Linked DNA regions of Homo sapiens. The protein of the gene in region 2 interacts with the protein of the main gene of each other region in a pairwise test. Each region holds a gene or a part of one and is shown on either strand. Other genes may lie near its edges.

Region 1 (3,822 bases), on a different chromosome or scaffold from region 2:
GGAATCTGTCATAAGGAAATAACAGTAAATGTGGGAAATGCTTTAATTACAAAGATATGGCAGCATTAGTAATCATTGAAAAAAACTAAAAATGAATGTCCAAAAATAAAGGAATATACTAAGCCAAGTATCATGCTTCCACTTAAAATCAAATTCATATGATATGTGAATTAAATCTCAATAAAGCTATTTTGTGATCAAGTTCAGTTAGACCACATAATAACATGGAAACTGCTTATGTTCTTACAATTTAAAACTTACATTTTGATATAAATGTGCATATTTATTATGAAAATTAAAACAGCAGCCATCAATCATCAATATTTACTAAGTGCCAAGCCCTACACTACAAGTTGTTACATGTTATCATGGTTACCTCATTATCACTGATACCATCACCAGGCCCATCCTGGAAGGGTCTCAGGCCCAAGGCCATCACCAACTGTGGGGCTGGCCCAAGATAAACCACACTTTAAAGAAGGCTTCACTAAACATTTTCATAGGCCCCTTGAGAATGTTAAAAACAAATTTGGAAATTGAGCCCAGTGGGATTGTGGGTCTGTACTACCCTACTTTTCAGCCTTCTTATATAGATTATTCCGATGGTAAGATTAAAAATTAAGGGCAAAAGGCTAATTTCCTTTCCAGTCACGGTGTAAAACAAAGACCAAAATAAGAACTATGTTAGGTTAGTTTGAAATTTCTCACTGAACCAAGTTAAAACAACAGGTAACATTAGGCACTTACACTAAGCAGAAGTCACTGTGCTAAGCACTTTATATTACATATAACAACACTAGGAACTAGCTAATATTTCCCCATTTCACACATAAGGAAACAGAAGCTGAAGAGAATTAAAGTAACTTGCCCAAGATTATACAGTTATTTGGTGTCAGAGCTGGAAGCAGGTCTAACTTCAGAGGCTGTACTCTTATCCTCTATGGTTATGATGAAAATAAATGAAATTTTTATTAAAATCACATATACTTTATCTAAAATGAATACGCATTCGTGAAGAAAATGATCTTAAAAATATGAAACAGTTAAATAAAACAAATGTTTACCGTCTGGTAATAGTCCCCTAATCCACTAAATGTCTGCCATAATCCACTGCTGAATAGCTCCACAAGTAAATAAATCATTTAATGTCCTGATGTATCTATGAAATTATATTTTAAGTGAACCTTTTGAAACAATACTATACATTCTGCAAATGAAATATGCTGCCCTCTTGGAGCTGTGAAAATACATATTTCTTGATCTATTAACTGTCCTAATTCTGTTCAGTTTCCTCCCTTCCTCTCCCACTTCCTCTTTGCTCTCATATCCTTTAAGACCAGTTCAGTTCCTCCTCCTCAAGAATACCTATATTCACACTTTACCCAAGAGAACTCTAACATTAGTTTCTGCGCTCCACAGCTGTAGGATGTTACAAAATCCAAAAAATGAACTCAAGTAAAAAATACAGTATTTCTGATGTACCTTCAACTTTAGATCTATCCACTTACAGAATTAATTATAAACATTCTTATTTTTCTACTTCACACTTGGAATCCTGTCTTTAAAATCAGCACACAGTAACCAAAACAGCATGGCACTGGTACCAAAACAGACATATAAGCCAATGGAGCAGAACAGAGACCTCAGAAATAACACCACACATCTACAACCATCTGATCTTCAACAAACAAGACAAAAACAAGCAATGGGGAAAGGATCTCCTATTCTGTAAATGGTGCTGGGAAAATTGGCTAGCCATATGCAGAAAACTGAAACTGGACCACTTCCTTACACCTTATACAAAAATTAACTTGAGATGAATTAAAGACTTAAATATAAAATCCAAAACCATAAAACCCTAGAAGAAAACCTAGGCAATACCATTCAGGACATAGGCATGGGCAAAGACTTCATGACAAAAATGCCAAAAGCAATTGCAACAAAAGCCAAAATTGACAAATAGGATCTAATTAAACTAAAGAGCTTCTGCACAGCAAAAGAAACTATCATCAGGCTGGGTGCAGTGGCTCATGCCTATAATCCCAGCACTATAGGAGGCCGAGGTGGGAGGATCACCTGAGGTCAGGAATTCCAGACCAGCCTGGCCTGCATGGTGAAACCCTGTCTCTATTTTTAAAAAATTACAAAAAGGCCAGGCATAGTGGCTCACATCTGTAATCCCAGCACTTTGGGAGGCCGAGGCGGGTGGATCACCTGAGGTCAGGAATTTGAGACCAGCCTGGACATGGTGAAACCCCATCTCTACTAAAAATACAAAAATTAGCTGGGCATGGTGGCAGGCGCCTGTAATCCCAGCTACTCAGGAGGCTGAGGCAGGAGAATCACACTTGAACCCCGGAGGCTGAGGTTGCAGTGAGCCAAGATCGCACCATTGCACTCCAGCCTGGGGGACAAGAGCGAGACTCCATCTCAAAAAAAAAAAAAATAGCTGGACGTGGTGGCACATGCCTATAATCCCAGCTACTTGGGAGGTGAACCTGGTAGGCAGAGATTGTGGTGAGCCAAGATGGCACCACGGCACTCCAGCCTGGGAGACAGAGCAAGACCCTGTCTCAAAAAAAAAAAAAAAAAGAAAGAAAAAAAGAAACTATCATCAGAGTGAACAGGCAACCCACAGAACGGGAGAAAATTTTTGCAATCTATCCATCTGACAAAGGTCTAATATCCAGAATTTACAAGGAACTTAAACATATCTACAAGAAAAAAAAAACCCCACCAAAAAGTGGGCAAAGGATATGAATAGACACTTCTCAAAAGAAGACATTTTTGAGGCCAACAAACATGAAAAAAGGCTCAACATCACTGATCATCAGAGAACTGCAAATCAAAACCACAATGATGGCCGGGTGCAGTGGCTCAAGCCTGTAATCCCAGCACTTTGGGAGGCCAAGGCGGGTGGCTCATCTGAGGTTGGGAGTTCTAGACCAGCCTGGCCAACATGTCTCTACTAAAAAGACAAAAATTGGCAGGGCGTGGTGGCAGGCGTCTGTAATCCCAGCTACTCAGGAGGCTGAGGCAGAAGAATCACTTGAACCCAGGAGGCGGAGGTTGCAGTGAGTTGGGATCGCGCCATTGCACTCCAGACTGGGCAACAAGAGTGAGACTCCGTCTCAAAAAAAAAAAAACACAATGAGATACCATTTCATGCCAGTCAGAATGGTGATTATTAAAAAGTCAGGAAAACAATAGATGCTGGCAAGTCTGTGGCGAAATGGAACGCTTTTACACTGTTGCTGGGAATGTAAATTGGTTCAACCATAGTGGAAGATAGTATGGCAATTCCTCAAGGATCTAGAACCAGAAATATCATTTGACCCAGCAATCTCATTAATGGGTATATACCCAAAGGAATAGAAATCATTCTACTCTAAAGACACATGCACACGTATGTTTACTACAGCACTATTTACAATAGCAAAGACACCAAACCAACCCAAATGCCCGTCAATGATAGACTGGATAAAGAAAATGTGATATACATACACCATGGAATACTATGCAGCCATAAAAAGGAATGAGATCATGTCCTTTGCAGGGACATGGACGAAACTGGAAGCCATCATCCTCAGCAAACTAACACAGGAACAGAAAATCAAACACCCTATGTTCTCACTCATAAGTGGGAGTTGAACATTGAGAACACATGGACACAGAGGGGAACAACACACACCAGGACCTGTTGTGGGGGGGCAATGAGGGAAGGGGACTTAGAGGACGGGTGAATAGGTGCAGCAAACCACCACGGTGCACGTATACCTATGTAACAAACCTGTACGTTCTGCACATATATCCTGTTTTTTT
Region 2 (3,822 bases):
AATTATCCCTTGGTTCTTGTGTATTTTCATCATTGTTTATTGCAATACCGTATAAACTTGTTGTTTTGCTTTTTGTTGTTGTTGTTTTTGAGACAGTCTTGCTCTGTCGCCCAGGCTGGAGTGCAGTGGTGCCATCTCGGCTCACTGCAACCTCTGCTTCCCAGGTTCAAGCAGTTCTCATACCTCAGCCTCCCAGGTAGCTGGGATTACAGCCGTGTACCACCATGTCTGGCTAAGTTTTGTATTTTTAGTAGAGATGGGGTTTTGTCATGTTGGCCAGGCTGGGCTCGAACTCCTGGCCTTAAGTGATCCGCCCACCTTGGCCTCCCAAAGTGCTGGGATTAGAGGTGTAAGCCACAGCGCCTGGCCTATGTACAATACCATGACCTTTGAATAACGCCCTGAGACCCATACGAAGTGCAGCTAGTGACATTGGAAGTGCTCCGAAGAAGCAGAAAAGTCATGACAGTACAAGAAGTTAAATTGCTTGATATGTACGATAGACTGAGATCTGCACCTGGGGTTGCTGGCATTTGAGACAATTCATCTTTTGTATACAGATGACCTAAACTTAGGGTATTGATAAATACAGCACTGTAAATGTGTTTTCACATTTTTTTCTCTAGCTTACTTATAGTTATTTTTTTCCCTAAACATTCTACAGTGCACATCTCTAGCTTACTTTATTGTAAGAATACAGTATATAGCCAGGCACGGTGGCTTACGTCTTTAATCCCAGCACTTTGGGAGGCCGAGGTGGGCGGTCACTTGAGGTCAGGAGTTGGAGACCAGCCTGGCTAACATGGTGAAACCCTGTCTCTACTAAAAATACAAAAATTAGCCAGGCGTTGTGGCCGGTGCTTGTAATCCCAGCTACTCAGGAGGCTGAGGCAGGAGAATTTCTTGAACCCGGGAGGCGGAGGTTGCAGTGAGCCGAGATCATGCCACCGCACTCCAGCCTGGCTGACAGAGCGAGACTTTGTCTCAAAAAAAAAAGAATACAGTATATAATACAAATAATATACAAAATACGTGTTAACCAACTGTTAGTGTTATTGTAAGGCTTCCAGTCAGTGGTAGGCTTTTGATAGTTAGGTTTTAGGGGAGTTAGGGTCAGTAACTCTCTTAGTTGTTATAAAGGAATACCTGAGGTTGGATAATTATAAAGAAAAGAGGTTTATTTAGTTCAGTTCCCCAGACTGTACAAGAAGCATTGTAGCTGGTACCTATCTGGTGAGGGTCCCAGACTGCTTCCACTCATGGCAGAAGGGGAGCTAGCATGCGCAAAGATCACATGGCTAGAGTGCCAGGCTCTGTTCAACAACCAATTTTCCAGTCAACTAAGAATGGGAATTCACTCCCACAAGAATGTTTTTTTTGGGACCAAAGAAACCACATCCAAACCATAGCAGTGCCCCAGCCCCCCGAGTTCAAAGGTCAGCTGTATAGTGTACACAGGAAAGGAGTGCATAACCCAGATTGGGATGGATACTCAGGAAAGGCCTGTCAGACAAAGTGGTCTTTAAATACATTTACCTAAAGGATTGGCAGGAATTAGCCTGAGGGAGAGGAGAGAGAAGACACCTTACCAGCCTGAAGGAAGAGCTGGAGAAAAATCGGTGAATTTGGCAAATTTTAAATAGTATTGTAGTGTGTATGTTTTTGTTGGGTGGGGTAGTGTAGATAGGTAGGCAAGAACTTGGTTTTAAATAGTTTTTATAGGCCGGGCGTGGTGGCTCACGCCAGTAATCCCAATACTTTGGAAGGCAGAGATGGTGGATCACGAGGTCAGGAGATCGAGACCATCCTGGCTAACATGGTGAAACCCCATCTCTACTAAAAATACAAAAAAAAAAAAAAATTAGCTGGGCGTGGTGTGGTGGCAGGCGCCTGTAGCCCCAGCTACTCGAGAGGCTGAGACGGGAGAATGGCGTGAACCCGGGAGGCGGAGCTTGCAGTGAGCCGAGATCGCGCCACTGCACTCCAGCATGGGCGACAGAGCGAGATCTGTCTCAAAAAAAAAAAAAAAAAAGTTTTTATAAGCCTTGTTGAAAGTTTAGATTTTATTACATTGGGAAATAACTGAAGGCTTCTAAGCAGAAGAGAGATGTTTACTAACTGGCTGCTGTGGAAGATTGATTGAAATTTTACTAGAAGTTTGTGTAGGCAATAAATAGTGAATCATACCTGCAAAGGTATACGTAATAAAATTAAAGGCATGGAAATGAATGTGTGGTCGTGGTATAACTGAAACATAAAGCTATATGTTATCAGGGACATAATTTTTGTTATAAATTCTTTTATTAAAAATTATTTCTTTGGGGGTTTATCTTTAACACAGTGAATTGAACTCTTAGGTAAAAAAAAATATTTATAGACTGTCATAATCAGAATTAAACTATTAATATTGAGGCAGAAGTGACAAAAGACTACAGCGTGTAGGGTTGGTTTTTGTTTTTGTTTTTTTGGAGACAGAGTCTTGATCTGTTGTCTAGGCCGGAGTGCAGTGGCGCGATCTCAGCTCACTGCAAACCTCCGCTTCCCAGGTTCAAGCGATGCTCGTGCCTCAGTCTCCCGAGTAGCTGGAACTACAGGCGTGTGCCTCCATGCTTGGCTAATTTTTGTATTTTTAGTAGAGACGGCGTTTCGCCATTTTGGCCAGGCAGGTCTCAAACTCCTGGCTTCAAGTGATCTGCCTGCCTCGGCCTCCCAAAGTGCTAGGATTGCAGGTGTGAGCCACTGCAGCTGGCTTGTGTTCCTTTTTTTTAACCAATAAAATTTCCAGGTATTCCTGGATTTTAAATTAATATTTGTATGTGTATGGCATTTGAGGTATTCCAGTAATATGTCCTGTTTCAGAATACAGTAAGTCTGCATTTAACGTCGTTAATGGGTTCTTGGAAACTATGACTTCAGTTGAAATGACATATAACAAAAGTTTTACCATAGACTAGTTAATATAAAGAAGAGTTAGGTTTCTGTGGCACATTCTGGTTACAGAAACATAACTAAAAAGACCCAAAACATTTCTGATATCAAACATTGAGATAAATTTGAGGTATACATACATTTAAGAAAGATGAATAAAAGCGAGGTAATTACCCAGTTTTTGGTGAATCAGTGAGTGATGGCAATTTTAGTGGTGGTGAGTTAAGTCAAGGAATAAATGTTTACAACTTGAACATTGTCAGAAGCACCTCCTACCTCCATTCAGTTCCAACACAATAATAAAGATGGTAAACTCACCACTTTTGGACTATGCTGTTTATTTTCATGCATTTGTATGATTATCATATGCTTTACAGACTTTTATTTTACAATAATTTCATTGTAATATACAATATATTCATTCCTTTCCAGCCTCCTTATTCCAGTTCAGGGTGGTGGGTGGCCAGAGCTGATCCCGGCTGCCCAGGATGCAAGGCAGGAACTAACCCTGGACAAGATCCCCTCCCATCACAGGGCATACTCACACACCCACACTCACCCAGACTGGGACTTAGGCATGCCAGTTCACCTACCGTGCACAGCTTTGGGATGTGGAAGGAAACCAGAGTACTGGGAGAAAACCCATACAGACATGGGGAGAACTTGCAGACTCCTACACAGTTAGCCCCAGCTGGGAATAATTTTTTTTCCCCTCATCACATTATTCAAGGACTTACTGTATATAGTAATTAGGATTGGCTATTTAGATTTTTAAAATTTAAGTCCCTGTCAGTTTTACTGTTTCCAACATGAGTTGTGTTGCCAGTGTTTAGATAATCAGAAGTATATATTGAATATAAATACATTATATATATATATATATATATATATATA

The links.
Region 1: the proteins of LUC7L3 (region 2) and ITSN2 interact in a two-hybrid assay, tested with the Homo sapiens proteins (one large-scale study listed by BioGRID).

What each region holds. Positions count from the first base shown.
Region 1 is NC_000002.12:24,353,771-24,357,592, forward strand, and holds part of ITSN2 (intersectin-2), read right to left. Parts: intron 1-3,822.
Region 2 is NC_000017.11:50,726,103-50,729,924, forward strand, and holds part of LUC7L3 (luc7-like protein 3), read left to right. Parts: intron 1-3,822. UniProt on the Homo sapiens protein: Binds cAMP regulatory element DNA sequence. May play a role in RNA splicing.